Regions from separate parts of the Homo sapiens genome. Here all the other regions are linked to region 1. Evidence: fine-mapped expression QTL. A gene starts in region 1. Each other region holds a variant in brackets. All regions are shown on one strand. Distances are between the middles of the regions. Region 1 holds the start of TIAM2 (TIAM Rac1 associated GEF 2). Region 2 overlaps TIAM2 (TIAM Rac1 associated GEF 2). Region 3 has its middle 14 kb from the start of TFB1M. Region 4 overlaps TIAM2 (TIAM Rac1 associated GEF 2). Region 5 holds the start of CLDN20 (claudin 20).

Region 1 (6,228 bases):
AAGATTCCATATAACTAGCAAACACTTTTGACATCTACAAGTATATAATTTTATATCACAATCTTATAAATGCTTGCATGATAATTCACATATTGATTGTAGCTTGAAAAATGCCACCAGATCACCCCACAAATTGTTAATTTTTAACTACATACAAAATTTGGAGCATTTTTACAACTCTTGCAGCCAATTCAGCTTGCAAATGGCCCCTTCCCAATGAAAACTGCATTTTTCATGCATAAAACTGTGATATTAAATACTGATCTCATTGGAGATCCTAAATAAATCAGACTCAAACCCTTCTTACTTTCTTAGTTTAATTCTGTGACATCTCACTTTAGGATGGCTTAAATTCTTATATACAAAACGGCACTCCAATGCAATTTATTAGCACATGTTTATGCGAGCAAAGCTCTTTAGGGCCTTACTTGCAAGTTTCTTGCCCCCTTATCTCTCTTAGCAAATCACGATTAGACACGTAAACCTGAGTGGCTAGAAAAGTCATCAGCTGACAAAGCACCACATGTTGACACAAATCCCTGACGCCCACCCATGAATTCACACTCGCAGATTCTTCCCTGTAATCAAGGAGAAGACATCTGTCTAAGCATCATTTGAACAGCCCAGACATAAGATAAAGCAAACTGAAGCAGATTTCTGTATACTGACTTATACAAAAAAAATCTGCCCCCAAACTCTTACTTCTTTCTAGAGTTCGTGAGAAGTAATCTTTTCTGGCCGGACACGGTGGCTCATGCCTACAATCCCAGCACTTTGGGAGGCTGAGGAGGGTGGATCACTTGAGCTCAGGTGTTTGAGACCAGCCTGGGCAACATGGCGAAACCCCCTCTCTACAAAATGTTTTTAATTAGCCAGGTGTGGTGGCACGCGTCTGTAGTCCAGCTACTTGGAAGGCAGAGAAGGAAGATCAATTGAGCTGGGGAGGCTGAGGCTGCGGTGAGCTGAGATCATATCACTGCACTCCAGCCTGGTCAACAAAGGGAGATCCTGTCTCAAAAAAAAAAAAAAAAAAAAAAAAAAAAATCCATTCTTTCTTCACTCGTTCACGGAACCTAGGAACCTTAACTGAGCTCCTATTACATCAGTTGAAGTGATGGATGCTAAGTACAGTAGTGGGGATAGGCTTAGGGTCACTACTAACCCATACTGTACTTTTGGTTAAATTGCCAAATGTATCCTCTCCAATGGAGAGGAGCGCACTAGAGGCTTGGCAAGTGGAGTGTGAATCGGATTTCAGCCTCCAATTGCCTGTTGGACAAGATGACCTTGTGTAGTGAACAGCCTGAACAACTGTGCAAGGTGGCAGTGCCAGAGGTATATACAAAAATGTGTTCTAGTAGAAGCACTGACTACTGGAGGAGGAGGAGCTTAACTTCGCCTACGGATAAGGAAGAAAAGCTTCCTAGAGAAGGTATTTGACTGACACATTAAGAATGCGTGGGTAATTGACAGATGGGCAAGAGGAGTAAGAACAGTGTAAGCAGAATTTCATTCATTCCAAACAATGGTCTGGAAATAACAACTTCTGAGTAGCTTGGTGTGTCTAGAGCAGGCAGTGTGCAAGCGGGGGAGAGCCAGGAGGCCTGGGGAAAGTCAGTAGATGGAACTGGAAAGGCAGGCAGGTGCCACATTATGAAGCATCTTAGTATGGTATGTGAAGGTGTTGAAAGCTGATTCTGAGGTCATTAGGGGCGTGTTTTGCCACAGTAAATAATAAACTCTTCTTCAGTTATACCTTGCCATGTTCTTTTACATTTACCCAACACAAAAACCTCTGACACCCTAAAGCAACAAGTTTTATTTTCCTATAAAGTGAGCAGGTAAAATCCGGTGGAACAAAAGTTTGCTTACAAAACTGCACCAATCATGATACTATATTTTTAAAACATAACAATCTTAAGCACATCAGGAAATACTTCTAAGAGTGTATACACACAAGTTCTACTGGTTAAGCCCAAATTATAAAACCATGGACACTTTTTTATCCAGAGCCTAGGACTGAAACATTTATAGCATATGATCCGCACCTGTACGAAACTTGGTAAGATTTTAGAGACACTCTGGCTTAAATCTATTGGAAAGAGAACTGGAGATAGCCGGTGTTGTCTGTTAAAATAAGGTGGTCAGCATCATTTGGGGAGCAAAAGGTAGAATGTGTGAATAACCATGAGAAGAGAATCCCAGGCCCTTCATCGCATAGTAAATAAAGGTCTCACCATTACCCAAGGAGGCTGAGGAGTGTCACCAAGTGGCCTCTTGCCTGAATTCTGCAGAGAAAAGCAGGAAAACCTCCCCCTGAATGAAATTATCTTTGGAATCAAGCAGCCTTCTCCCTCTTTAAATAAAGTTAACCTATTTGTCTATTTTAAAAAAACGGCATGCAAGCTCATCAATATTAAATTTCGCCGCTCCTTAAAGATAGAAATACCTCGTGCAATGTTACTCCCAGACCTTTCCAGCGGCTGTCAGCAACGAATGGCTGGAAGAATGGACTCTTTTCTTTCTGAACTGTTTTTGGTAAATAGGATCCATTAGGGGCACAACGTGTCGGCTTTCACAGAAACTTGGCACCTCAGCCCCCCCAGGAGCCGCGCCCGTCCGGGATGGCTCCCGCGCTCGGAAAGGCCGGAGGGGCTGAGCAGGGACCGCACGGTCTACACTCGCTGAGCCGACCGCCTGGGATCCTGCTTCGCCGCAGCGCCTTTCTGAGGCTCCGAGGTCGCCGGGCGGGCGTGGGCGCAGCGGGCGCTCCCCTCCGGGCACCCACGGCTCGGCTTTGGGCGAGAACCTCGGTATCAGGAGGCCGGGGCGCCGCCTCCTCCCATCCGGGATGGGACCGGGGCTGAAAGTGGGTCCTGGCGTGTCGCGCAGCGCGAGGGGACCAGGGGACCTAGTTTCAGAGCCTTCTGGAAAGTGCTTCGTCCCCCGTGCCAGGCTGTGCCCGGACGCTGCCGCCCTCCGGGGAGAGGGTGCCAGGCCGCGCCCCGCAGCCGCGACCTTCCGCGGGACTCCCAGGAAAGCGGGGGCAGAGAGGGGCGGCCAACAAAGGGGAAGGGAGGGGACCGCCGGCCGCGCGCCGCCCCGCCCGCAGGGGACCTGGAGCCGCCGCCAACCAGCGCGGGTCGTCGCCCTCCTGCGCCCTCACCCGGGCGCCCCTTACCTCGGGTCGCGCGCCGGGCTCGGTGGGGCCGGTCGCGCGCCGCCCTCCGCTACCCTCGGCGCGTGGCCCTCGCGGGAACGCCGGGAGGAGTTGGAGAAGTTCTGGGGGTCACTTTGTTCTCCACTTGGACGCGCGCTGTGCGCCTGCGGCGGCCGCGGCCACAGTTACGGTTACCGCTGCCCCAGCCCCGCGCGCAGCGCCTGCCAGGCCCGAGCCGCGACCGCACCTCCCGCCCCGCCCCGCCCCGGACACGCCCCAGCCCCGCCCAGCGTCAGGCCCAGGACCCCCGCGCCAGCTCCCGGCTGGTCCCGGACCATGTCCCTCGCGCTTTCTTTGGAACAACACAAATAAAACAATTCAAGAAACATCGAGCACGCGCTCACTGTGAGCTGGGGGCTCTGCCCGCTACCGGGGATGCGATGCGCCAGTGCGACCCCGTCCCTTCCCCAAGGAATTTAAAGACGGCTCTTCCCGGGTCCCACCGAGGAAAGGCACGCAAAACTGAGGTCAGCGGCCGCAGAGACTTTCCATCTCCTTCCCCTTCTGAGAGGAGATGGCTTCGCAGCGGAGATGGCAATCGAGTCGGCACTCCAAGACCCAGTCGAATTGGGACTTTCCAGGTGGAGAAGCTGCGATTTTTATTATTATTTTTTCAGACTGAGTTTCGCTCTTGTTGCCCAGGCTGGAGTGCAATGGCGTGATCTCGGCTCACCGCAACCTCCGCCTCCTGGGTTGAAGCGATTCTCCTGCCTCAGCCTCCCGAGTAGCTGGGACTACAGGCACGCGCCACCACGCCCGGCTAATTTTGTATTTTTAGTAGAGATGGGGGTTTCATCATGTTAGTCAGGCTGGTCTCGAACTCCCGACCTCAGGTGATCCACCCGCCTCGGCCTCCCAAAGTGCTGGGCTTACAGGCGTGAGCCACCGCACTGGGCCAAAGCTGCGATTTTTATTAGAAAAGCCTGAGTGGCCCAGTGGGCCCAGATGCTGGGAAGGGCGAGGGAGCTAAGGAGACCCAGGAATGAAAGCTGCCTGGAATCACTCTCCTCGCCTTGAAAAAGGCTGCACCCTGGAGAGGAGAGGGAAGGGAAGGTAGATGCAGGCCATGTGTTAGGGTGGGTCCTACGAGAAGCAGCGCCCACTCAGGACTAGATGCGGAGGGTTTTCTTGGGGGAAATGGCCGTGGAACTAAATGAGGAGGGAGCCGTGAGAGCTGGAGAGGGCCGGACCTTCTGCAAATCAGAGCCCAAGTGAAGGAGGGAGGGAAGCACCCATCCCGGCCTCCCTGCAGTCTAAGAAAAGCTCAGCAAGATCATCCGTGAGCCCTTCAGCCAAAATTACGCATCATGGGGATCCCGATTCTCCCCGGAACCTGCCTGCCTTCGTGTCCATGCCGCCACCAGTCCTTGGCTGGGAGCGGCCAGGTGGGAAGGGTGGCGTTGGGCACAATCCCAGTGCTGGAGTTCAGAGCACAGCAGCCAGGGCCCTGGTCAGTTAGGTGCAGTGCGTGAATACGACCCAGTCTCCGTAACGGGAGATCCGTGGAGAACTGTGAGTCAAAAAGACAAATGAAATCAGCTTTCCCACAACACACCCAGTATCAAAAGGAAGCCTCCAGGCTTTGCGGGGATCGGACAGACCTGCTCTCCACCCTCAACCACCACAGGCTCTGTACACACCGAACTAGTAGTGACTGGCCCCTCCCACTCTGTAGGCCCTCCCCTGGTCTTGTCTGCATCTTTGCGCACTTGGCTCTGCCTAGGAAAATATCTTCCCACTCCACTCACTCTTCCATGCTCAATTCAAGCATCACCTCCAAAGACCTTTTCTTCCTTGACATTTATTTACTGTTTTGTGGGTGGGGTGGGGGGGGGCGGTGCTTGCTTTGTTTTGAGATGGAGTCTGTCTCTGTCGCCCAGGCTGGAGTGCAGCGGCACGATCTCAGCTCGCTCAACCTCCACCTCCCGGGTTCAAGTGATCCTGCCTCAGCCTCCCAAGTAGCTGGGACTACAGGCATGCACCGCCACACCCAGATAATTTCTGTACTGTTAGTAGACACGGAGTTTCACCATGTTGGCCAGGCTGGTCTCGAACCCCTGACCTCTAGTGATCTGCCCACAGCCTCCCAAAGTGTTGGGATTAGGGTGTGAGCCATGGCGCCCGGCCAACACTTATTTACTTCTTACTTCTGACTCACACCTACCACACTGAGACGGGGGGTGGGGGGGTGCTGGTATGTGTTTATTTTTCTTGCTTCTTTTATTGCATTTTTCGCACTATTTTAAAATATTTTTCTGATTATAAAAGTAACATGTTTGTTGTACAAACTTGAAAAAATATATAGAACCCAGATGGCTCTAATTCCTCTCCTCTTGTGAGACACCATCCCTTGACAGCCAAGTAACCAGAGTCTGAGCTCCCATACCACCCACGTGTGTACATATGGGTCCAACCAAGAGAGAGGCTACACAATGATTTCAACAGTGAAAGTTTAATACAAAGAATTATTAACTATAACGGGACTTGGAGTAGTGGGGGATTGACTAGGTTAGTAAGAAAGACAAAAGAAAATGGGAAGAGCAGGCCAGGCGCAGTGGCTCATGCCTGTAATCCCAGCATTTTGGGAGGCCGAGGCGGGCAGATCACCTGAGGTCGGGAGTTAGAGACCAGCCTGACCAACATGGAGAAACCCTGTCTCTACCAAAAATACAAAATTAGCCGGGGATAGTGGCATATGCCTGTAATCCCAGCTACTTGGGAGGCTGAGGCAGGAGATTCGCTTGAACCCGGGAGGTGGAGGTTGCGGTGAGCCAAGGTCACGCCATTGCATTCCAATAGGGAAACTCCGTCGCAAAAAAAAAAAAAAAAAAGAAAAGAAAAGAAAATAGGAACAGCAGATGGAAGGACTGAAGGAGCAGTCATTGCCCCAGGGCTGAGAGAGTGCACCCAAGGGAAGCTTCTCCTTCCCCTGGGGTTGAGACCCAGACCCTGTTGGGGAGGGCACAGCTATGGTTCACTAAATGGCAGAGAGGTCACTGAGGTGTCTT
Region 2 (6,228 bases), 250 kb before region 1:
ATTTGACGGCCCCATGGCTTCTGTCAGATTCCATAGCACTAATGCCTTGGAGAAGTTCAAACCTGCTCCATCCACACAGGAGGTGGGGAACAGCCCAGGCGCTCCCCTGGCAGGTATCTAGCTTGACTGCAAAGTTTCCAGCGGCAGAGCCTACTGACAGTGTGCAATCCAAGGACAAGAAACAAAGAAAGTTCTACAAAAATACAGCTGACAAGGTGGGATATAAACAATCTGAGAGAGGTTCACTAATAAAGCCGACTCTGCATTGCTTGGGGAGAGTGATGCTGTCTGTATGGTTCCAGGTCCCCTTGGAGGGGCTTCCTGCCACACTGCGGCTTACACGGATGCTATGGAGCACTGGTGCTTCATAGAAGAGAGGGCTTGAGCCCAGCAATTAGAAACCTATTCTCTTAATCCCAGATCCACATGACCACGGGGAAGAAGGATTGGGCACAGGGTAGGAGCTCTGGTTTCAGAAGCAACCACCTTGGATATCCTTCACAGCAGCTGAGAAAAGAGCACGTACGTGGTCAACAACCAGGCGGGAGGTGCTGCTGGACTTCTGACTACCAAAAGCACCTGCGCCAGGAAAAAAAAATATATACAGCCTTCCTTTACCACCTGACAGAGGAAAACGGTGCAAGGAAATAGTCACAGGACAATAAATAGTCAATAGTCACAGGACAAGAAATTCTTTCTCATGAGAGAATTCTCATGAGAGAAATACGTACCATAGCCACGTATTTTTACTTTAAGCCTAAATCTGAGATACTTACTCTAAACTGTGAGGGGGTTTCTAGGGTGTTAAAGTCAGATGATGCTGAAATCCCATCCTCCAGGGTCTCCAGAAACACCTTCTGAAACTCAAGCATCTCTGGCAAACTTCCAAAAAGTGACTCCATCTATGTGAAGATCAGGATTTGAAATGAGGGGATTAGCCATGAAGTTCAGGACACCACGCTAACTCTTAGGCCCACAAATAAATCACAAGGAAATTCTTCACGGAAAAGCAGACAGAAAGTAAATCCTTTAAGAAGACAGCACATTCATTATGGGATATGGCTTATACATAGAAAGTTTCACAGCTCCATCCCCCATAATTCTCTATTACTACAGTAAATTTTTAAGTGGATGTAAAATTCTCAGAATTCAAATTAAGAAAAATGTAAGTCAGTAGAACTAATTATGTGGTTTCACATTACAAAGGTATGTATTGAAAAGGAATTTCTGATCACACTCTCTTCTACCTCAAAAAGACCATAACCGTCCCTCTGCCTTTGTAAACACTCTGCCACTGGGTCATGCAGCCGAGGCCACAGCAGTGGTTTAGGAGGAGGCTATGCCTGGGACTCTCAGAAGACCGTTAAGTCTTGGGATGTTCTTTTGGGATCAACAGAGATACTCTCATAGGAGTTCTGCTAAAAGGCAAACAGAGACTAACCTGTGGATCACTGGACAGAAGGAAGGTGATTTTATTTACCTCATCTTGGGTAAGAAAGGTCTCATTCTGAAGTGGCTCCAAGTATAATTCAAAGAGGCAGCTCAAATCCTGAAAGAAAATAGAAGAAAGTGTCTTCAACGCTTTAGTCTCCAAAATACCCATGAGATTTGGGTAGCAGCAACCTGGCAGCAGCTCCCAAGGCTCCCATCAGGATAATGAAGTTTATGCCTTGTTGAAATTCTTTTTTTTTTTTTTTTTTTTTTTTTTTTTTTGAGACGGAGTCTTGCTCTGTCACCCAGGCTGGAGTGCAGTGGCATGATCTCAGCTCACTGCAACCTCTGCCTCCTGGGTTCAAGAGATTCCCCTGCCTCAGCCTCCCACATAGCTGGGACTACAGGTGTGCTCCACCACACTCAGCTAATTTTTGTATTTTTAGTAGGGGCAGGGTTTCACCATGTTGGTCAGGCTGGTCTCGAACTCCTGACCTCAGGTGATCCTCCTGCCTTGGCCTCCCAAAGTGCTAGCATTACAGGCGTGAGCCACCACACCCAGCCTTTGTTGAAATTCCTGACCCCAAAAGTAGTGATTATTGCTCACCTAATTCAAAGAGTTTAATATCACAATACAGGCAACAGCTGGATTCCACACCTTTACAGCTCGATCATTCCCTCTGCTTAGGTAAGTGTCTTGGTGACAGAAACACCCTTTCTTCAGGCCACTGCAGCAGGGGCACTCACTTCCCTGCAGAGGAAGGGCGTCTGGGTGGCACTGGTGTCAGGTGCACCCCAGCTCCTGGCCTCTTCTGCCTCAGGGAGCACAGTGAGAGGTCCAGCATGGAGCTGGGAGGGTCAAGTTCTGGGGAGCCCTTCAACTTTGGGGTTGACTGATTCACAGAATCTCAAACTCACATATTCAAAGGCAATAAAAAACTCCCACAGAGCTGCAGCTCTAATGGCTAAACTCTAAGCCATATTTGGCTGTCTTGCAAACGAGGTTCCAGCAGGACAGTATAGTGGGAGTAGACTGCAGTTACAAAACCCATGAGCGAAAGATTTTGTTTAATAATTTGAAGCCAAAGCCAGGCATGGTGTCTCATGCCTGTAATCCCAGCACTTTGGGAGGCAGAGGCGGGTGGATCACCTGAGGTCAGGAGTTCAAGACCAGCCAAGCCAACATGGTGAAACCCTGTTTCTACTAAAAAAAAGAAAAAAAAAAAATAGCTGGGTGTGGTGGCGGGTGCCTGTAGTCCCAGCTACTCAGGAAGCTGAGGCAGGAGAATCTCTTGAACTCAGGAGGTGGAGGTTGCAGTGAGCCAAGATCATGCCACTGCACTCCAGCCTGGGTGACAGAGCGAGACTCCATCTCCAAAATAATAATAATAATAATTTGAAGGCAAGACCAGGATATAGTTCAGTGATAGAAAAGATTTCTCTTTTATTCTGAAGAATTTTGAGTCCTAAAATACTAGAAGCAGTTGACTGCAAAGTCAGCTATAATAACTCCCTCACTTCCCAAGAGGGGAACCTAAGACCCAGAGCTTTATAAAGCCCAAAGCATCCCCAGAACTTTCTGGCCTTAGTTCAGAGAGCAAAAGGCAAGGCCTGTGACACGGATGCTTTCACCATAAAAACCTCCCTGGCCTTCCCTCACCATATTCCACGCCAGACCGCTCAGAGAAGGGAGATGATGGAAGTTACTGAATCA[T/C]ATCTCAGGGAACACATAGATGTCAAAAATTTCAAGGAGCATGCAGGGGATCCAGGTTAAAAAACAACAAGATTCTGTGTTAAACGTCAGCAACAAAAAAGAAATGAAGAAACGGTGGTGTGTGTGTGAATCACAACAGGTGCCAAGTGTGGGTTATTTTGTCCGAGGGTGTTGGGGCCTGGCAGTCATGCCTCACAGGCTGGTGCTGCCTGGGAGGACTTCCTGGACAGCAAAATCAGGTCCGCGCAGAGCTGCGGGGGGCAAAGGGCTGCAACCCAGGGGGGCCCTAAGAAAACAAAGTGCAGGTTTCTTGCAGAGAGAAGGGAGAGTCGGTCCTTGTCTACTTCACCCATGACACCATCTGAGTACTCTGCCAGCCTGTCACTGAAATGACCCTCCCAGTACAGCGTGGCCTAACAGGAAATTCTAACAACACTATTACCAAAAAGGGACATCGATTCTCCTCTCAACTCTGCCCTTAACTCTTGGGGCAAGAGCTCCATGACTATTCTCAAGATGTCAGAAGGGCTCTGAAGCTTCCAAAATATCTACAGCGCCACACAGCGACTTGGAAAAAGGTGACTGTGGAGATGGGATTATTCAGAACTTGAGTCTGAACAGCCTGGCTGTTCACTTCATCTCCACACCCTGGATGCAGGACAAGACATAATGGAAAATGAAACTAAACTGTCATCTCTCCTAACTTTCCTTTCTCCCCTCTGAGGCCAAAAGAAGGGGCTTTGGGAAGCTACCTGTGAATAGGGCCTTAGGTGAAGTCCTGGTAAAACAGCGACATCAACAAAAGGGGGAAGCTCAGATCTGTCTTGCAGAGCAAGGTAATAGCCGCACGTGTGTGCCAAGCCTTAATTCATGGACCCAGCACGTCAGAGTTGGAAGACATTTAGAGAAGGGGGACCGAGTGTCTCAGACCCCAAATAAGGGAGTTGAAGGGGGCCATCCACCATACAGCCAGAGGGAGGCAAAGCCGGGCCTGGACCCTCAGCCCACCGCACCGTGCCGCGCTGCTTCAGTAACTGACAAATGAAGCGAGCTTCAAATGGTACCAAAGCTCCAGGAAACAAAGCAAAAGAACTCTGCTCCCCAGGCTCCAGTATTCTTCATAAAATCTTTCTCAAACCACTGACTGGGGGCTTATGAGATGGATAAATGAATTCTTCGGGTACTCAAGATACTCGGCAACTGCCCCTTCATAATGGTGCAAGGATATTCCCACGTGCTGACCACTCCCCAGTGTGTGCGTCCCAGTTCTACACGATGACAACCACCAGGCAGGGCTGGCCCGGGCCACCGCCAAGACTGTGGGGCCTGGATCAGCCGTCACGTATGTACAGATTGTTCCCAAGTTCCTCATCACCTAAAGTGATCTCTCTCCCCTTATACTAAACCAGTACAGACTCCCTTCCCACAGATTGCAAATGACAAACCAGAACATCTGTTTCCATAGTGAAAGCTACCTTGGTAACAAAATAAGCCAAGGATCTAATTTTTTTCTGAGTCTCCTCAGCTCTTCCACCCTCTCACTCTTCCCCTCCCTTCCTTGAGCAATTCACTGATTCAAGGAGCAGGTGTCCCCCCCTGGGGAGTGGCAGGTGTCCTGGGCAGAGGTGATCTGGGGACCTCTGCCAGCATACCACTTGCCATCATCAAAGAGGCACGAATGCATAAATGCCAGCTCTTCCCTTACCTTCACGTAGGACTTCTCTGTGTCCACAAGCTCCTGGATGACTTTGCGGAGGCGGTCTGCATCAGACAGGTGGCGGGCCAGAGACCTCGGAGGAGGATCCTGATTCTCCCGCGGTCCTTCCATGCCGTTGGCCTGACTGTCGTTAAAACTCCTGCACAGTGCAGTGATCTGCTCAGCACTCTGAGAGAGGACAAGAGGTGGAAAATAATGCACGGGCCTCTCCCTGATAGTATCCGCTGCCCCCAAGGGCACCAAGTGTCTCCGTCTGTGCTCAGCAGGGATCTCAGAGGGGCCTCTGTGTAGGGCAAAGGGTTTCATTCACCTCAAACCCCTCTGGCTATCATTTCGGATCTGAGTAAGGAAGATGTGCGCCCACACTCATGTTCAGTGTTTACACACGAGGCTCTCCATTGTCACATCAGCTGTTAGATGTATCTTTGGACCTGAAATTACAGAGTCATTGCCTAGGGCTAACCCTCTGCAGTCAAGGTGAGGTAGCTCTGAAATCAAGAAGTTATGGCTTTCTAGGGAGCAACAAGAGCAGATGGCCTCAACAGGCCCACCCAGTCCCCTCAATGGTTGGCCTAATCCAGTTTTCCATCTCCCACACAGAACAGCCCGGAGAGACTCAAGAGAGGCACAGCCCAAGAGCAATTACAGGACGACCTGGCCACAGTGGGCCAGGAGTTCTGCCCTCCAGTCTAACCGCTCAGCTCCACAGTCTTGTGGCAAGTAGAATTATGAGTGAGAAACTCTTGAGCTGGTGCACATGCTAGTAATGGAGTAGAAGCAGATGAAGATGGTAACACCCTCACCCTAAAGGGGTGCAGAGCCCTGCAGAGCGCACAGGCAGGGAGCAGAGGACACATAAGGCCTGGCGAGGATGAGAGGCCAGGGATCAACCAGCCCCAGAGGAAACCTCTGCGAGGAGGGAGCTAAGCTGGTCTTAGCAGGGAGCCAGGGCCAGGCCTAGGGAATGTGGGCTCAGAGGAAATACTCGCTCCCAGTCATGGGAAAGGAATCACATAGATGAAGAGACAAGAAGGAACATGACCATCTGGGGGGACCACTGGCCTTTGGCACAAGCTCCTATTCAGACAGAAGCACCATGTGCTTCCGCCTTCTCAAAGACAGCCTATCTGTATCCACCAGACTTTGGCTGGAAAGCCTCACAGGTGAAACGCTTCCACAGTTGCTGGAGCAGGGTCAGATTACAAAGTGTCCTTTTACTTCTCATTCTTTCCATTCCACCCTCACATCTCCACCCCACTTCACCACCTCCCCATCTGGAAGCCCAGTGAGGGCAGGGTGGCTTCTTTCTTTCACATCTCCGCCAGCAGCCAGCTCACTGGCCAGCACAGGAGGTACTCGGCCCACC
Region 3 (6,228 bases), 330 kb before region 1:
GACAGGTGGCAGTAAAATGTCTTACTTAATAGGATTGATATATATTACATTTTGCTTGGACTTACAAAGGAAGAATATATTTGATTATTAAAAGATCTTGATGATCTAACAACATTCAAAATAACCTACATTTCTAAATAAGATTTTTTTCTCACTGAAGTACTAACTGATTAGTATCTTAAATTTTTTTCAAATCTTTATACTTCATATACTCTGGCACTTGTCTTCTGTACTCAAGTAAGATAGCAGAGTTCTATTTTAAGTATACAGGCATTTTCATTATGATACAAATAACTAGGTAATAGCTAATATAATTTAGCATCAATAATATACAAAGTATGTATTAAATTGACAAATTAGAGATTACTATGTAACAATCTGCTGATTATATTAGAGCACTTGTTTATTTGTTGCTATGGAAATTTTATAATTAACTGCTGTTAAAATTTTTGACTTGTTATCTATAAATTTGATTTTCTAATTGTAATTAAAAATTCAAAATGAATATTACATTGTTTAATCATTTGATGTACAGTATTTATTCAGAATGACTTTATGTTTGTATAATTGTAATTAATGATAGTATATAATATACTAACTTCAAAAGTTCTTTTTTCACTTGAGGAATGAGAGCCTTTCTCTAATTCACACAAAGGTGTCCTGTGGGCTAGCAGCAGCCTTGATCTTTCAGCCAATTTCATGATGGAGAAGATACTGTTATTATCTCCTTTTTACAGAAAGGGAGGCTTAGAAATGTTAAACAATATGCCCACATCACAGAGATAGCAAGTCATGGGGCAAGATTCAAACCCTAGCAGTTTGAGCCAGAGCTCAACGTAGGCAGCGTAACTCTCACTGCTGAATAGCAAGGTTTGAGGAATTACAGGTATCACCTCCCAAAAAGGACCTCCCATACCTTCCGGTCCGGATGGACATTTCTCCCACCGATGTCACTTATTGATTATGCAACAAAAGTGAATGCATTTCTTCCGGAAGATCACAGTGGTGACAATAGAAGCTGATCAGAACTAGCAAGATGGAAGAGTCATTCAGTGTGGATTTCCAAAAATATGTGTATGTTTCAGGAATTGATGAGAAGCACATTTTGATGAAAAACAGACCTAGATTCAAATTATTCCTCTGCCACCTACTCAAGAACCCTTCCTCTCAAACTCCTGGTCCCCCTCCAGCATACAAAACCACATCCTATATATATCTCCAACCATTCACCTGTCCAAGCCAGGAACCTGGGAATCAGCCTTGACACCTTCCTTTCCCTCCCCACCCCACTTCTTCGCACCCATCGCCAAGACCTGTCCTTGACTTTGCAAATATCTCACACACATGTTTCTCACCCTGTGTACCATTGCCACCCTGGCCTCACCATTATTTCACCCCAGAATTACTATAATACCCTCTTAACCACTTTCCCTTCTCACACTCTGACTCCTCTCCCATTTGCTCTCCCCACTGCACCCAGATTGACTATTCATCTCATCAAAGAATGCATTCCCTTAAAACCTGCGAATGCAATGCCTATCATTTCTAAACATCAAGCTCTATCCTAGCCTACACAATCTTACAAGATGTGCCACCTCTCCTTCTCCAGTCATCTCCTCTATACAGCAGACCTGCCTGCTGATTCTCAGATACTCCCAGCTCCCTCCTACACCAGGGCCTTTGCACATGCTTTCTCTTTGGACTACCTAACACCCACGTATCTTTCATTACTCAGCCTCACCATCAGAACCTCCAGGTACGCGCTCCCTGACCTTGGCCTTTCCTTCATATCTCTCCTCACGTCTACTGGCCCAAGGGCAGATCTGGTCATTCTGTGCTAGCTTCTCCTATACTGCATGTTTTGTTTTTTCCTTCAGAGACTTTATTACAGGTTGTAATTATACATTGATATATGGTTATTATTGGTTAATGTCTGTCTTCTGCCGTGGACTATAAGCTACATGTGGGGACTATAAGCTTGTTCAATAGCACACAGAACTATGTAGCTATGAGCAAATTACTTAAACTTTCCCAAAAAAAAAAAAAAACAGTGTGGGGGAACAATACTGCCTCAAAGGTTTTTGGCAGGCTTAATCAGCTATGTAAAGCACTAAACAGAATAGGCTCATTTACTCGATACATGGTAGCTATTCCTGCTGTTATTCCCTACAATATGCTGTGGGCCGTCAGAATTTGTCCTCATTTTAAAATTGTTTCTAGTCTCGTAAAAAGGGAAAACATTCACACAAATAATTAAAACACTATAGGATAAGAGTCTATCACACTAGCCAACAGGAGGCCTGACCTAACAGGCTTTGGCCTTCGCAAATGTGAAGTCGCCGACATTCAGGATACCTTCTATCATCTCTCCTTTAGGGACCATCAGGATCCTGCTGCTTGGATCACAAGCATGGCATTATCAAGAGATTGGCTCAAACACCATCTCCTCAGTGTAGACCTTCGTGATGCTGCCAAGAAGAATTAACACCTTTTTCATCCCATGTCCTCCAGCAGTGTGTGTCTGTGTGTGTCCCTATTAAGAAATTGAAGTTCCTCAAAGGCAAGAATCATGTTTTTCATTTCTATATTCCTAACCAAATCAACTACAATAAATGCCCAAATAAGTTTCATTGAATGAATGAATGAATGAATGAATGAATGAAAAGGAAATTAAAATTACACACACAACAGTGGATATGTAGAAAAGACAAGCACAGCAAGAGCAACTAGGCTGCCCAGGGAGGCAGTATGCAAGTCCAGAACCTAGCTTATGTTCAGAGGGCTTTCAAAAGACAGATCAAAGGAAGTGGAGCCTGGGCAAGAGGCAGCCCTAGTCTGTTTACTCTTCAGTCACTTTGTAACTTACCTGCTGCCCCCACCCCAGGTCTGCTTTGACATGAGATCTTTAAATGTTGAGGTGGGAAGGGGGGAATCGCTTAACTGCTATCTGATTCTTCATCTGTAAAATAAAGCTACTGACACTGACCTTCCTCATAGAGCTATTGTGTGGGATAATTAATTAATAATTGCAGAATCCTTTAAGAGTATAAAGTGCAACATAAATGCTAAGCATAATTTCCACACAGTCTCTGCTGGCTCTTCTCAAGCACATTCCGGCGGCCTCGGGGTCTTTGATCTGCTGTTATCACCTGCAATAGAGCAAACAATGCCTTTGTATCATTAAGCAAATACATAATGAATGGTATTCATTGTTAAAGGTT[A/G]CTTAGCAATATAACTTTTTTTTTGCCTTTTGAATGGGAACATCCACCGGTGAGAGGATTACGTAAGCTAATAGCTAATGTATCAAAGGAAAGGAGAGAAAAGAAACAGCCATGGCAACCAGAGCAATAGGGCCCAGGCTTTGGCCCTCAGAAGAAACCTGTATCCACCTAGCAAAAGGAGGATAAGGACTAACTGGGAGAAAACCAGAGGGGATGGTGAACAGAAAAGTCAACAACAGGAAATGGCAGACTGTGGCCTAGTCATCCTCTGGCTGTCAGATCTCGGCTTATTGCATGAGACATAATCTGCCATCTTCAGGAGTGTGAACCTGGTCCTCTTCGAGTCTCTGGGTTCTTCCCTTCATGCCGAGTGGTGCTTTGGTGGGAAAATTGTGTTTTTCTTTGAATATAACCTTTTCTAGAGATAGAGGTGGGCGGCACTATGATCAGAGAACCTTTATCCTCTGCATTCCTCCCAATGCTCGGCTCTTCCCCGAGAAATGGCCCTCAACCCAATGCAGGGGCAATGGCTAGCCCCAGGAACAATCATCCCAAGATTCTCAAGGTAAGTGAGACAGACCACCTCCTCCCATAAAATGCAAAAAAGCTCACAACTTGTTCATTGGCTCACTTGATTTAATATCAAAAGATTGGAACAGTGTTACAATTCCCTTAAGTGTTCCTTTGAGATTTAAACAAAAGAAATAACAAATGTTTACTGATTTGGTTTGGATTGTTCAAGTTTAGACTTCAGTACTCTAGCACAGTCTTAAGGTATTTGGTAATTCTACAAGTTTAATTTTTAAATGTTAGAGTTAACTTTTATGTCATGTTTTTCAAAAACTATGTGAATTTACAATGTACTCCTCTCCCTATATTCCTTTAAATAATACCCAAAACACAACTCTCATATACCCCTCTATGTTTTACTGCCTTGGCTACAGGGATTTTATGTCTCTTATTTGGCATTGCTGTTTATTGTCACTTCCCCCATAATTCTGGTTTTTGCTGCCCTGTTTTTTTATCCTTTTGAAAGTCTTTCTTCACTATGCTAAGTCAAACTTTGAAACTCTTGGTAAATGCCATAAAATTTTTCTTAACATGGAACAAGATCGCCACCCAGTGGCCATGCTGAGCTTCACTCTATGCATTTTTCCAGATTTTTCCCCTCACACTTTTATTTATCTGGACTGCAGAACAGAGGTGTCCTTAAAGAATAGCCCAGCCCCTTCATTTTTCTGAGGAGAAAACTGAAGGTCAGAAAGGTTAACATTTGGTCAAGTCCACAATACCACAATAAGACCCATGCCTTAGGCCAGGCTTCAGTCCTCATGTTTTCAAGGACTACCTCAGAACTGGAGGTGACCTTCAGGATCAGCCAATCCAAGCCCTCTAACATACAGATGAGGACACTGAGGCACAGAGAAGAAAAATGGCTTCTCAAGATTTATGGAGCTGACTAAATGGGACAAAATTAACACTTAGCCTGATGTTCATTCTCCTACTTAGACCAATCTCATTTTAAATATTTTATTTTCCCCCTTGGATTATCATAATTCCAGCCTTTAATAGGTGACCATAGTAGATGAGCATAAAATGGTCAGCCCTTGCCTTCCTCAAAATGAATAAAGTTATGTAATGGGAACCGTCAGAAAGGTAAAATTCATTCTCATTAATGAACTGTTCATTGTTGGTATATCCAAAAATATTTCACCACTTTTGTTTATACTTAGGAGGTGATAGATTTAATTAAAGGCAATTAGAAATTCTAACTATGCCTTCTTTCAGTTTAAAGAGAATACTTGGCCAGGCTTGGTGGCTCACGCCTGTAATCCCAGTACTTTGGGAGGCCGAGGCAGGCGGATCACGAGGTCAGGAGATCGAGACCATCCTGGATAACATGGTGAAACCCCGTCTCTACTGAAAATACAAAAAATTAGCCGGGCATGGTGGCGGGCACCTGTAGTCCCAGCTACTCAGGAGGCTGAGGCAGGAGAATGGCGTGAACCCGGGAGGCGGAGCTTGCAGTGAGCCGAGGTCGCGCCACTGCACTCCAGCTTGGGCGACAGAGGGAGACTCCGTCTCAAAAAAAAAAAAAAAAAAGAATACTCATCTCTGGTTCAAAATGTCTTGATTCTAGAATTTCAGTACTTGGATTTGAACACTTCCTCTGGCAAGTTAGGGATGACTTCACATTGTCCACTAACTTCAAAATCCTCTTTATGGCATGAGAAAGATCCACAACATTGAAGAGTCCTTATCACTCTAAATAATTCTGAGTTCCTAAACTCAGGTGAATAAGATTCACAGAGGGTAGCGGATGCTGCCTGGCTTTGCCCCACCCCAGATCCGTATGGTCCTCCTGAGTTCATCTGCAGCTGTGATCCAGGCAAACTGACAGCTCCCCACCTCCCCTGCTGTCTTCCATGCCTGGGGGCTTTGGAGCCTCCCCAGCTTCTGGTGGGACAATGCTGAGTTGGGCTGCACACGGTTTTTCAAAAGATCCCCTGGGATTGAGCCCCAGTTGCCCTGGAGCCCTAACATGAAACTACTCCCTAACCCCTGGAATTGGCCTTTCTCCTTTTCCCATGGCATTTTCCCGACTTCCTCACTTGTGCTTCCTGGGATTACCTCTCCAGGAGGGGCAATTAAACAAACAACCTGCATCCACACCCTTGCCTCAGGGCCTGATTTTCAGGGAATACAAACAACTGACTCTGCATTGTAGAGAAGCCCTGTTTTGCCTTGATGACACATCTAGTCTCTAATAATGGTGTCCCAAGAGGTTGTTCAGTCTGGCCTTTCTCCCTGTATACAAGCAGATTAACTAGGAAGCATGAGAAGTTGAAATGTCAGGGCCTATCACTCGAACAAGCCATTTTCAAGCCTTGGGAAGGGCTCTAGAAATCTACTCACATGGTATATGTTTTTGTAAAATTTACAAAGGCAAGACATTTTAACCCTAGTCAGTCAAGACCACTGTCTCTTTTCAGGTTGTATTCTGGTG
Region 4 (6,228 bases), 230 kb before region 1:
CACAGATTCCTCTTGTCGACGGGGGTGTAACCAACTTTGTAAATTAAGCTAAAGAACCAAAAAGTCGTGTCCAGATTTCTAACATCGTACCTTGCAATTTCACAAATACAGTCGCTCTACCTTTAAATCAATTGAAGAGTAAATACACCCATATGCCATGAGTCTGATACTTAAATACAGTTTTCTCCCCTTTCTTCTACACGCAGTGCCATATTCTCCTTACGAGGCAGTGTGGTGTCATGGGAAGAAGTGCTTTAGAAGCTGGCAGGGCTGGGCGCGATCCGTGGTACAGTCACTGCCTAGGACACACTGGCCTGCTAGTTGACATCTCTGAATTTGAGTTTTCTCATGCTAAATGGGGCTGGTAATATCTGTTCAATAGGGTTGTGGGGAAAACGGGTTTAAATGAAGTGATGTATTTAAAACACATTGTATTCGCCATGGGCTAAGTCTCCGCAGACTGACTCAGCACCCCTGCAGTTTACAAAGCCATTCCGCATGCCTAGTCTTTATTTCACCTCACAGCCATGAAACAGTTGTGGAAATGGAATCCCACTTTCTTAACAAATAAGGATTCAAGGGAGTGAATGATTTTTCCAAAGCCCACTGTGAGTGCATGGAAAGCTCCAGCAATTCTGGTCCAAGTATCTTTTCACTTTGTGCAACAGCAAATTAAGAGACAAACATCTACTTTCCTTTCCAACTTAGTAGAGCAGGAGGGAAAATCCTTCTAGTTAACTCTCCTGTTTCTTATGTATCCCACTCTCCGAGCACATACTGCAAATGTGCTGTTTGGGATGGCCTTCGCCACGGGACAGTCAGAGCCAACTCAAGGTGACAGCAACTCAGCAACAGAGACAGGGGCGCAAAACAAACAGCTTGACTTGCCCTGGATTATTCTTCTCCAGAAGAAACCAAGCCCCAGTTTCACTGATGGGGACAGACACACAGGGGCACGGGCTCTGACTTGGGGGAATGAAAGGGACTATGTCACCACCTGAATTTGTTGCAGGCAAATTATGAGTTCTTAAAGATTTTTTTAAGCATTTAAATTTCACCATCTGCAATCTTTTTTTCTTCCCTGCCCCCCGCCCCCACCCGAGATGCAGTTTCACTCTTGTTGCTCAGGCTGGAGTGCAGTGGCACGATCTCTGCTCACTGCAACCTCCGCCTCCTGGGTTCAAGTGATTCTCCTGCCTCAGGCTCCTGAGTAGCTGGGATTACAGGCGTGCACCACCATACCCAGCTAATTTTTTTTAGTAGAGATGGGGTTTCACCATGTTGGTCAGGCTGGTCTCAAACTCCTGACCTCAAGTGATCCACCTGCCTCGGCCTCCCAAAGTACTGGGATTACAGGCGTGAGCCACCACACCCAACCTACCATCAGCAATCTTTTGTTTCCACTTAAAAGCGGAGCCCACAAAGATGCTCAGCCAGCCAAGGGGGCTACTGAGGCTGAGCAGCCTTGCATCCCATTCCCCACTGGTACATTAGTATCTTATGACACCTTCAGCCGTCACACTTACTTCTACTGATGGCTGCTTTTTCAGGTTTCATGGATCAAAGATGCTTTTCATCGCTTATGAAGAATGGGATGGGGGCAGGGAGACAGGGTCCAGGTGCTATGATTTCGTCTGAAATCACATCCTCTTCATGCTTAGAAAGCCCTACACTTTCTCTTCTAATATTGGCTTAAAACAATGCTTGGAATCTGGTTTCAAAAAAATTGTAGCTTCTGGGAGGAAAGTTATAAGTATATAAAACATCAATTACATGTTAATATCCTGGCAACCTTAATTAAGCAGGGGTACTGCCAAGGGCTACTTGCCTTAAAGTGAGCACAGATACCCTGTGTGCCCCTTTAATTATGGTTTTTGTTCAGTGTTTTTTGCTGGATTTGAGTAATGCAACAGTCACATCTGGCACCCTCATCAACAGGTTCTCAAAATAATGATAATCTTATATGGAACAATACCTATCTTTATTTATATAAGTATTTATCTGAGACTTTACCACTCTATAATCTACACTGACTTCTAACAGAAATGGAATAAGATTTAAACTAAGACAACTATCATTTTCAATAAATAACTTGACAGTTTTGATCAAACTTCTTAAAAATAGAAATCAATAAATACATGGGAACCAAAGCCAGGTATCCCTGGTGGTGAGAAGAGCTGGGGATCTAGAGAAGGCAGCAGAACCAGGACACTCAGGCAAGAAAAAGATGGAAGAGACAGAGTGAGGGTGACAGAATGTGAACAGAGACTTTCTTTAAAGCCCCACACTTAGAAGTTACCTGTAAGCCTCACGTTGTATTACTGCTTGATGGTCCACCTTTCCCCATCTTGGTAACTCATCTGTATAAGCCCCAAATTCAAGACCTCGGTGCTCAAATGAGAGGAAGGCAGAGCACCAACCTGTCCTGATGGGTGTGTCACCCGGGCCCTCAGACTGCCCTTTATCTATGCCTGAATGAACCAAGAAGGGAATAAACTCTTAAAAATCCCAGCTGAGTGCATTGGCTCATGCCTGTAATCCCAGCACTTTGGGAGGCCGAGGTGGGTGGATCATCTGAAGTCAGGAGTTCGAGACAAGCCTGGACAACATGTCAAAACCCCATCTCTACCAAAAATACAAAAATTAGCTGTGTGCAGTTGTGCATGCCTGTAATCCCAGCTACATGCGAGGCTGAGGTGGGAGAACTGCTTGAACCTGGAAGGCAAAGGTTGCAGTCAGCCAAGATCGCACCATTTCACTCCAGCTTGGGTGACAGAGCGAGACCCATCTCAAACAAACAAACAAACAAATAAATAGAAAATCCCAAAACCAGCTGAGAGTGGCATGCAAGGTAGGAAGATGGCAGGACTCCTCCAGGCATGCAGCATTTGTGGTTTCTGAGCAGTTGGTGATGAAATCCCCGCTGTGCAGATGCCAGGCCAGAACCTTCTAAGCAACTGCACATCTCAGAGCCTCCTCCTCTGCCA[G/A]CTGTTTTCTGAAAACACCAGAGGACTCAGGTGGCAGCAAAGAATGAGAGAGCGCAAAGGCAGGTGAATAGCAGAGGCGGCAGCATGCGCTGGAGGCTGAACAAACACAGTCGGGGTGTGGAAGGGGCAAGAACCAACGAAAGGATGAAAGAGGGAAAGAGAATTGGGGGTGCCTTTAAAACAAACCTCCATTCTCCTCCTTCCTTCCATACTAATGACACATCCATGTTTTTCTTGCCCTTTTCTTCATGTTATTATCAAGACAGCAGGAGACGGATTTACAAAACGAATGATCCCATCTTAACCTTCAGCAGTTAGAAGCTAGTGTTTGAGATGGTGAAAATACCATCATGTGTACCTGGATGAAGCACTTCCAGGCAGAGTTTTTCCATGACCCCTCCTCCCTCAACTCCAGACACATCTACTCATGACACACACATCTACTCTTAGCTGAGTCTATAGAGGAAATTGCAAAATGACTCAGAACAATTTCTCACAACTTACTTTTGCAAAAGCAAAAGCAGCCACCACTGTGGAGCCGGAACTTTATCACAAGGTGAGAATCTGCTATGAGTCATGAAAGGCACAGAAAATGCCTTGAAACTCAAACACATCTTCTTTCACTCAGTACAAGGTTTTCATTGGACTACAATCTCTACGCAAGAATATTGACAGAAGGCAGCCAGGTGACGATTTCAGAACTTTGAACAATGGCAAGCATCTGAGCAGGCCTCGGTGAAGGGGATTTAATGAGTGAATGAATAATGCGACACTACACCCACCCCCCTGGGTAAATATTAAAGATCGGATGAGATTCCAGGCACCCACACAGTGGCAAGCCAAAATTAGATAGTAATTGTGCCTATTACTTCTTTAAAAGAAAAAGGGCGAACGACAACAAGGGCTTAGCTAATTTGCTGACATGGAAAGGGGAAGGGTGAAATTCACTGGCAACGCCCTTGCCGGGGAACACAGGAGCCACAGCCACCTGAGCGTCCCTTACGCTGAGCATAAAAAACACCCCTCCTAGTCCATCAGACAGCTATTTATTTTACTAAAGAGATCCATAAAAGTTTGGTTTGGGATCAAAATGTTAAAATTCTTACTCCAAAAAAAAACCCATTTTGTTCACTAATGATAGAAAATAAAACTTTCAAAATGCCAAAACATCCCAGCACGTAATGCTGCGATTGGTGTTTAACAACCTGGGTTTGCATCCATTGAAGTGCAGAGTAAAAAAAAAAAAAAAAAGAAAAAAAAATCTGGGGATGTCTAACCACCATCATCAATATAATCTATTCTGGTCTCAACCTAATAATTTATTTGCCATCTAGGGGTTGTTATTTATTTAACGTTCCTCAACATCTCTTAGCACATTAAAAAAATAAAGCATTAATAGCTAATCTCACCCAAGCAATTAGACTAAGATAAAAACAAAGTTCAAAATATCACTTGACTATATAAACACAGTGCTGTTCATATTGCAGGTACTTGATAACTGATTCTGCAATATCAATAATATTAAGACACAGGCTAGGCTATTCAGATGTTTACTCAAAGTAAGGATCACAAACTGACGGTTCATAAATTCCTAACAGGGAAAGCTGTGAATAAACATCGTAAGACTGGGGAGCTCCCTGGAATTGTCTGCAATTTCTAACGTATGTGCATAAGCAATCTTCTGGGGACCCATAGCTTTCCTCAGATTCTCAAATGGTCTGCTTGAAATAAGTTCCTAAATAACGTAAGTGCATAAAAGAGCAGAGAGCATCTGGAAATACGGTATCTAACCATCCTGACCTTCGCATACCATTACCTGAGAAGCCTCCAAAAATCTTACAGGTTTTAGCTTCAATGAAATGCATGAAGGACAATAAACGACCGAAGCAAATTCTAATAGGGTTCTGCTAAGATTCTTCTTCTAAGCAGCTCTCCATATTCATGGGGATAAAAAGGGATATCTAGCAGAAAGCTGCTTTGGATCAGGCATTCAGGCAGAAAGACAGACAGGGAGAGACATCAGGGCAGGACAGCTGGTCAGACGGACCCTTGAGTTTCACAGATAGGGAAGTTTGACAACTTACCCAAGGATGAAGAAACGGCTCCTCAGTGTAAGACTTAGGGCAAAAAACCCATGGTTTTTTTTGTGTTTTTTTTTTTTGTTTGTTTTTTGTTTTTGAAACAGAGTCTTGCTCTGTCATCCAGGTTGGAGTACAGTGGTGCAGTCTTGGCTCACTGCAACCTCTGCCTCCTGGGCTTAAGCAGTTCTCATGCCTCAGCCTCCCGAGTAGCTGGGATTACAGGAACGAGCCACAATGCCTATCTAATTTTTGTATTTTTAGTAGAGATAGGGTCACACCATGTTGGCCAGGCTGGTCTTGAGCTCCTGGCCTCAAGTGATCCACCAGCCTCAACCTCCCAAAGTGCTGGGACTACAGGCGTGAGCCACGCCCACCCAACCCATGTGTTCTTACTCCGAGTGTACCCCATGTCGAGGTGGCTTCCCCAAAGAATAGGCAAGAACAGGCCGGGTGTGGTGGCTCACGCCTGTAATCCCAACACTTTGGGAGGCTGAAGAGTGTGGATCACCTGAGGTCAGGAGTTTGAGACCAGCCTGGCTAACATAGTGAAACCCCGTCTCTAGTAAAAATACAAAAATTAGCTGGGCATGGTGGCGTGCACCTGTGGTCCCAGGTACTGAGGAGGCTGAGGCATAAGAATTGCTTGAACCCGGGAGGCAGAGGCTACAGTGAACCAAGATCGCGCCACTGCACTCCAGCCTGGGCAACAAAGTGAGACTCCCTCTCAAAAAAACAAAAATAAATAAATAAATAAGAAGAAGAATAGGCAAGAACCTGCAAATGGTATTTACACTGAGGCTAGTTTGGCCTGAGAAATCAAACTTCCTGCTTTCTTCTCCCACAGAAAGCAAAATTATATCAAGGTCTCCATAGCTCCATCTCTAATTCAGAAGCCCAGAAAGGAAATAAAGATCTGGAAATAGAGGGCTGAGGGGCATGGAGAGGGAAGATGGAAGAAAGAGGACAGACATGGGACACTTGCCGTTCAACCCCATCTTCACTGTCATCCAGGTGGACAAAATTAAAGGGGAGACCTCAAGCAGCTCTGGCAAGAGGTCCCTTACGACCACCTAAGTTGCAGGGAGCTGGCTGATGACTCCTTGAACTTGGCTTTCTGTTTGCCTTGAAAAGGTCAAACATATCCCACTTCAAGTGTCATC
Region 5 (6,228 bases), 270 kb before region 1:
CCCAGACTATGCTTTAATGTCTCACTTTCCAGAACTGGCTCATTTGGTCATTCTTTTTTTTTTTTTTTTTTTTTTTTTTGAGACGGAGTCTCGCTCTGTCGCCCACCCTGGAGTGCAGTGGCACGATCTCAGCTCACTGCAAGCTCCGCCTCCCAGGCTCACGCCATTCTCCTGCCTCAGCCTCCCAAGTAGCGGGGACTACAGGCGGCCGCCACCACGCCTGGCTAATTTTTTGTATTTTTTAGTAGAGACGGGGTTTCACCGTGTTAGCCAGGATGGTCTCGATCTCCTGACCTCATGATTCGCCCGCTTTGGCCTTCCAAAGTGCTGGGATTACAGGTGTGAGCCACAGCGCCCAGCCTCATTTGGTCATTCTTAACTGTGAGCGAGACTGGGGAAGTTTGTATCTGGCTTTTCATCCCCCCTGGTGAGCTGTATCCAGCAGGGACTCAGGCTGGCTTTGTGGGTGTCACAGGGCTCTAGCTGCACTTCTAGTGAATTTAATCTCCAGGATTTGAGTTGACTGTGTGATACTTTCCCAAGCAACTAGGATTGTTCCCCAAACCTGTGATTCTCATTTCTGCCCACACGAGGGCTTTGGAAAAGCCCCAAGAGGCTCAGGCCCAACCCAGTGGCTTTTATTTAATTTTCTGGGATGGAGCCCCATCCTTGTATTTTTCAAATGCTGTCCATTTAATTCTAATGAAAAGTTGGGGTTCTGAATTTTAAAAAAAATGTTGTGATGGTTAACACTGAGTGTCAACTTGATTGGATTGAAGGATACAAAGTATTGATCCTGGGTGTATCTGTGAGGGTGTTGTCAAAGGAGATTAACATTTGAGTCAGTGAGGTGGGGAAGGTAGACCCGCCCTCAATCTGGGTGGGCACCATCTAATCAGCTGCCGGCTCAGCTAGAATATAAGTGGGCAGAAAAATGTGAAAAGAGAGACTGGCTTAGCCTCCCAGCCCACATCTTTTCTCACGTGCTGGATGCTTCCTATCCTCAAACATTGGACTCCCAAGTTCTTCAGTTTTGGAACTTGGACTGGCTCTCCTTGCTTCTCAGCCTGCAGATGGCCTATTGTGGGACCTTGTGATCATGTGAGTTAATACTTAATAAACTCTTCTTTATATATATATTTAATATTTACATATTATATATTAAATATATATTATATATTATATATAATATATATTTATATTATATATAAATATATTTAATATTTATATTTAATAAACTCATATATATATATTCCATTAGTTCTGTCCCTCTAGAGAACCCTAATACAAATGTTTTTTCTTCTTTGCTTTCCATTCAATCTTGAAAATAATGACAGTTCAGAGTAAGATAAAATAGTTACCTGTTCCAGCCCTACAAATTTAAAGTGATTTGACCTAATCCTAAAATAATGTTCTTCTTCTGTCCCAGCCTTAGGAAATTAACAGTATCAGCTATGAATATACGAATGTACTGACCAAGCATCTTCAGTGTGATGTCTAGTCCGTTTGATAATTATGGTTTATTATGAATTACTATATTTGTATGCATGTTCTATTTCTCAGTCTTTTAATAATATTACTAGCAGCATTTATCAAGTGCCTTCTGAGTTTGTTTAGATTGAGAGCCTCTCTGAGGTCCTGTCTTCTCTCTGAGGGACGGGAGTTGCTCAGGACCTGCAGCGCTGGGGTCCAGACCCTGGCAGTTGCCAATGTGCTGCCACACCCATGGCCCGGCTGGGCAGCCTCGAAGCTGCCTCAGGCAGCTCCTGCCACATCCACAAACCCAAGCGGGAGCACAGCCCGGGACAGGAAACACAGGGCACGTCCAGATGCTGCTGCTTCACAGACACCAAGGGCGTGGTTTGTGGAAAAGGCCTAGTTTTAGGAAGGTCTTTTCCCTCTGATCATCCAGGAACTCCAGATTAAATGTAACAGAAAACCTTTATACAACAATTGTCAGTTCTTGTTCCATTTGTGCTTTCTTGAGGATTACACGTGCATCTCCCTGAAATTGTTTAATCTCTTGGGACCAAGAGACACTGACTCATCTTGTTGTTGTTATTACTAATAGGTGTAATTTACATACATACATATGTACATTTACATAATTTACACAGTAAAAAAACTCTTCATCCCCCTCACCACATTTCTTAGTCTTATTTCTCTTGTGATCTGAGTTTGCTGTCATTCTCTTGGCCTCAGTTCTTCCTACCACATCTGCTCTGAGAGGAAACACTATGTGACTGTTTAAAATCTGTTCTTTTTTTATGATCCCAAGAAGAAAGAGAAAAAAACAAAGATCTGTAGGAAGAAAAAAGGGTGAGGACAGAACTTCTGCAGAAATAAATATTGTTACAATAACACAAATTGTAAACTTTAGGATAGGTACTGACCGTGTAGTTGATCTTTATTGAACCAGTTGGTTTGAAATACTTAGAATGCTGTCAGCTTTAAGGTTTTACAGTGGAAATTCTTTCCTTAAATTGGCTTTTGGACATGGATCACAGGTAGAGTGAACCAATTCCAGAAAATGTGATCTACATTCACATTTGTCAGTATTTTCTTTTTCTATGACATGCATAATTATCATATCACAGGCATCAGTGACTTGCTGCCTCTACCTGGGATTCTCCTTACCTGGGAAAGTTGTAACCTCGAGGCCCGTGATGTCCTAAAGTGGACTGTCATTAGCTTGGTGGAGGTACTTGAAGAGCAAGCAGACACTGGAGGGTGGGGAAACCAAGCATCCGGAGGCACTCATCTTGCTCCGTTGTTTTACCCGACAGTGAAGTGGCTCTCCCAAGCCCCTGTCCTCCTGCGTTCCATTTTGTGGTGCCTATAGCCTGCAAGATGCCATATGCTTCCTGTTCCCAACCACCCAGGTCTGCCCGTGATCATCCCACTTCGAACTTTGAATCCTTCTTATATGTTGTTCTTTAAAGTCTTACTGATTATTCCCTGTGGTCTTTTTTTTTTTTTTCACTAGCCCTTCTGTTGTCTTAAGTTATGGCTGTGTCTTGGCTATTTACATAGTAACTTCCTCATCATTTTTTCATCTCCACTATCTTGTCCTCTAATGGTCTTGAACACCGTGAGAGTGTTGAATGAAGACCCTTTTGTAGACAGTGGCCAGCATTGTTTCTGTGTCTGTGCATGTGGTCGTGACTTAGCTTTTGGGCATATGATAATCATCAGGAACTGAGTTGTACGTCTCTTCAGTGTCCTCTGTATATCATGTTGATTACAGTTCTCAGTTGTAATATCTAATATCTAAGATTTAAGATTTAATATCTCCTTAGCCCGGGTCCCTTGTGAGTTCCAAGTGCTGCTCTGAGCTGATAACCAGTCACGTCCTAGACACCCTGGCCTGGAAACTAGGACATCTGCCTCGGGCCTGTTATGGCCAAGGCTGCTAACACTGAGAAACAGTCTTAGCTTGTTACAGCGTTGACGTATAGGGTTAGAAAGGCAAATATTTAAATTCATTTTAAATCCTTTCATTTGAAATTTTAGTAGGTCATTTTGGTATACTGATGGACTGAGTTTGGAAAAGGCTGGCGGCATTAAACTAGAATATTTTAAGTACTTCTGATGCCTTTGTACTGATTTCTTTTTTGTAATCAAACCCATTAATAGACTTAAAACTCAAGGAAGAAAAAATAATACTTGTAATTTTAAATAAGCATTCAATTATAAGTAAAAAACATTTTTGTATTCGTTACCATAGTTACCAAGCAGCTTTCCTATAGTTCTAGAAAAAAATGGGCTCCATCATTCAGAGTAATTCTGAAAGGTGCCTTTGGGGGAAAGGGAGAGGAAGGGGTGGTACAGGAGAGGTCCTGGCCGTCCCAGAAGCAGGAGACATAACTGGAAGAGCTTTGTTGACGCTGAGTTTTACAGAATCTCCCACTAAATAGTAACTGCATTTGTGAGGGGAATTCTCTTTTAGCCGTGACATAATATAAGCCAACTTAACAGAGTATTGGAATTGTATTCAAACTTTAGAAGTCGACGCTATAGTTTACATGGGGTACTACTATATTTGTTCAGGGTTTTAAAACTTTATTTAAATCAAGCAAAAGTTAGACACTTCCTGTATTTGCAAATACCAACTATATCTCAAAGGAATGAAATCAGGCAAATAAAGATGAGGCCAAAATTTAAAATCTAAGGAAGCTGAAAGTGGCAGTTTCTGTACTGGAAGAGAGTGCATCTATCTCTGTATTTGTGCTTTTGGTCTTAATAGTTTGTAAGCCTTATGTAGAGTTTTGATAATATTTCATGGTTTTAGGCCTAGGCAGGGATTAGATTTTATCTCAGATTTTGCTAAGAGTATTTCTTCTGGAGACTAGCAGGCTGCTAGTAAGAATTGATAGAATTGGCTCTTTGTCACTGGGAGAACTGGAGTTGAAGGGTTACAGGAGATGAGTCCTGGAGAA[C/G]GGGAGGCAGGGACAAGGGTGCCAGGAAGCTCAGGGGATGAAAGGGAAATGGAGAGTCCAGTGAGAGAAGGCTGGCGAGGTGTAGAGAGTGGCCAGACACATGCCTGACAGTTGGGACCACTTCTCTATACAAATCAGGAGGAGGCGAGGTAGGCAGGATAGTTCAGAGTTTGTGGGAAGGAACCTGACATCTGAAGTCAGTGGAGTGTGTCTTGGGCTGCTGCCTGCACTCTGCCATTCATAGATCAGGTCTTCTTTTTCCTTCCCCAGAACTGCCCTGAGCTGAAACCACCTTTCTTCTCTCCCTATAGCAGTACATCTACCCCACCTACACCCTGCATCCACTCCACAGCCCCTTGTCTTCTTCAGTCCCTCTTTCCCTGATGACCACAGACCTCTCCAAGCTGGGCACTGTTCTATGGTGCGTTTTGTTAAAGTCTAAGGGAAGTCCTGTAGGAAGAGGTAGTTGTTACTAAACTTGAGGAAACATGAAACAACATATAGCACACAATTCAAAAAACTTACTAAAATTTATTAAGAGCATTTGACATCTTAGTTAAGTCACTGTTCATAACTACTGTTCCACCATAGAATCTTCACAAGAACAGCCTGCTGGACTTCACAAGAAGGCTGATGGATGTTGGGGGTGGGCATTTGGGGTGTGGAAAGGCCGCTTGGCACATTCTCAGCATGCGCCAGCCCACACCGCCCCTTACCACCAAAGCCTTCTATTTCCCATTCCATCCAGTAGGAGCAGCTGTAGCTGACCTGAAACCTTCGGGGACAGGCTCATTGATTGTTTAAATAGGGAGGTGCAAGCTCTCAGGGGTCCGGGGCCTTGATGACACAGCTCAGGCACCACAGGCACCTCCCACAAGCGCGTCAGGCTGTGTGAGGCTGAGCACAGCTTATTTTCACTTTCTTGTCCATAAAGTCTCACATCATATTCAGTTGTTTTCCTTCTACCCTAAAAGAAACACAACCAGAAAAGCCAGTCTCCCATTTTCATCTGTTTAAGGAATTATGTAGCCACAAGGATCTTTAGAAGCAAGTCCTCTTAGGAGAAAATGACAACCTCTATGGGATTTCAACAATGGAGTTCCTTTTGAAAAGCAGTGGTGCAGCCCACACCTCCTAAATTGCCGTACTTTCTTCGCCTTTTGTTGAGTCTGTATGAGATCCTCATTAACAAGTTTAACAATTCCTGGAGACTGAGGCTTTTGTCAATTATGACGAGACTTCCCATTTCCTAGACCATGGTCTCCGTTAGCATTTTTGTGTGTGTAGTTACTGTTTTGAATCCATTTCCCTCTGTCTTTAAATGTTTTTCCTTTGGTATTTGAATTTGTCCTTGTGAATCACCATGAGTCCATTTTTGGAACAAATCAGGGTATAAATCTCTTATAAGATATGCCTGAAAAGTTTTATCTTCTGACAATTAAAGAATCTCCACAGCTGGCAGTAGCTTAAACACTATCAAACAGTGACATTTTTTGATGGTTTCCATTTTCAATTTCAGTCCTGCCTATGCCTTTCGGGGCATTTAAAATTGCTACTAGAAAGTTCTGTGGCTTTTCAGACTACACTCATGAATTCAGTCCAGCTGATTAATCAGTGTCTACCGAAAATAAGTGGTGTCTCTATCTGGGAAGTTTAGCACTGAGTGGTCCCTGGGGGCCTGTCTGCCATCTCTCTGTGTCTTGAAGCTGCTGCTGCGGCTTATTTTTTTCCTCATTCAAAAACTAAAATATTCTAATGCCATCTATTATCTGCTGACTGACTTTAATGA

The links.
Region 2: its variant is fine-mapped to the expression of TIAM2 in whole blood (TOPMed, PIP above 0.99).
Region 3: its variant is fine-mapped to the expression of TIAM2 in whole blood (TOPMed, PIP above 0.99).
Region 4: its variant is fine-mapped to the expression of TIAM2 in whole blood (TOPMed, PIP above 0.99).
Region 5: its variant is fine-mapped to the expression of TIAM2 in whole blood (TOPMed, PIP above 0.99).

Annotation. Positions count from the first base shown.
Region 1 is chr6:154,992,446-154,998,673 of GRCh38, reverse strand. It overlaps TIAM2 (TIAM Rac1 associated GEF 2), which reads right to left and starts at 3,359. Exons shown (of 27, transcript NM_012454.4): 1 at 3,182-3,359. RefSeq lists enhancers at 2,252-2,857, 2,858-3,465 and silencers at 3,102-3,181, 3,272-3,411.
Region 2 is chr6:155,239,332-155,245,559 of GRCh38, reverse strand. It overlaps TIAM2 (TIAM Rac1 associated GEF 2), which reads right to left. Exons shown (of 27, transcript NM_012454.4): 16 at 4,851-5,030; 17 at 1,481-1,549; 18 at 777-902. It also overlaps a transcript of TFB1M not described here. Among named protein-coding and RNA genes, the nearest start is that of CLDN20, 22 kb to the left of the region's middle. The variant T/C (reference allele first, on the strand shown) is at 3,146.
Region 3 is chr6:155,325,810-155,332,037 of GRCh38, reverse strand. No RefSeq gene overlaps it. Among named protein-coding and RNA genes, the nearest start is that of TFB1M, 14 kb to the right of the region's middle. The variant A/G (reference allele first, on the strand shown) is at 3,222.
Region 4 is chr6:155,221,538-155,227,765 of GRCh38, reverse strand. The region is part of intron 15 of TIAM2 (TIAM Rac1 associated GEF 2); the gene reads right to left. Among named protein-coding and RNA genes, the nearest start is that of CLDN20, 39 kb to the left of the region's middle. RefSeq lists an enhancer at 2,813-4,012. The variant G/A (reference allele first, on the strand shown) is at 2,988.
Region 5 is chr6:155,260,698-155,266,925 of GRCh38, reverse strand. All of the region lies in intron 5 of TFB1M (transcription factor B1, mitochondrial), which reads left to right. It overlaps CLDN20 (claudin 20), which reads right to left and starts at 2,913. Exons shown (of 2, transcript NM_001001346.3): 1 at 2,638-2,913. The variant C/G (reference allele first, on the strand shown) is at 4,440.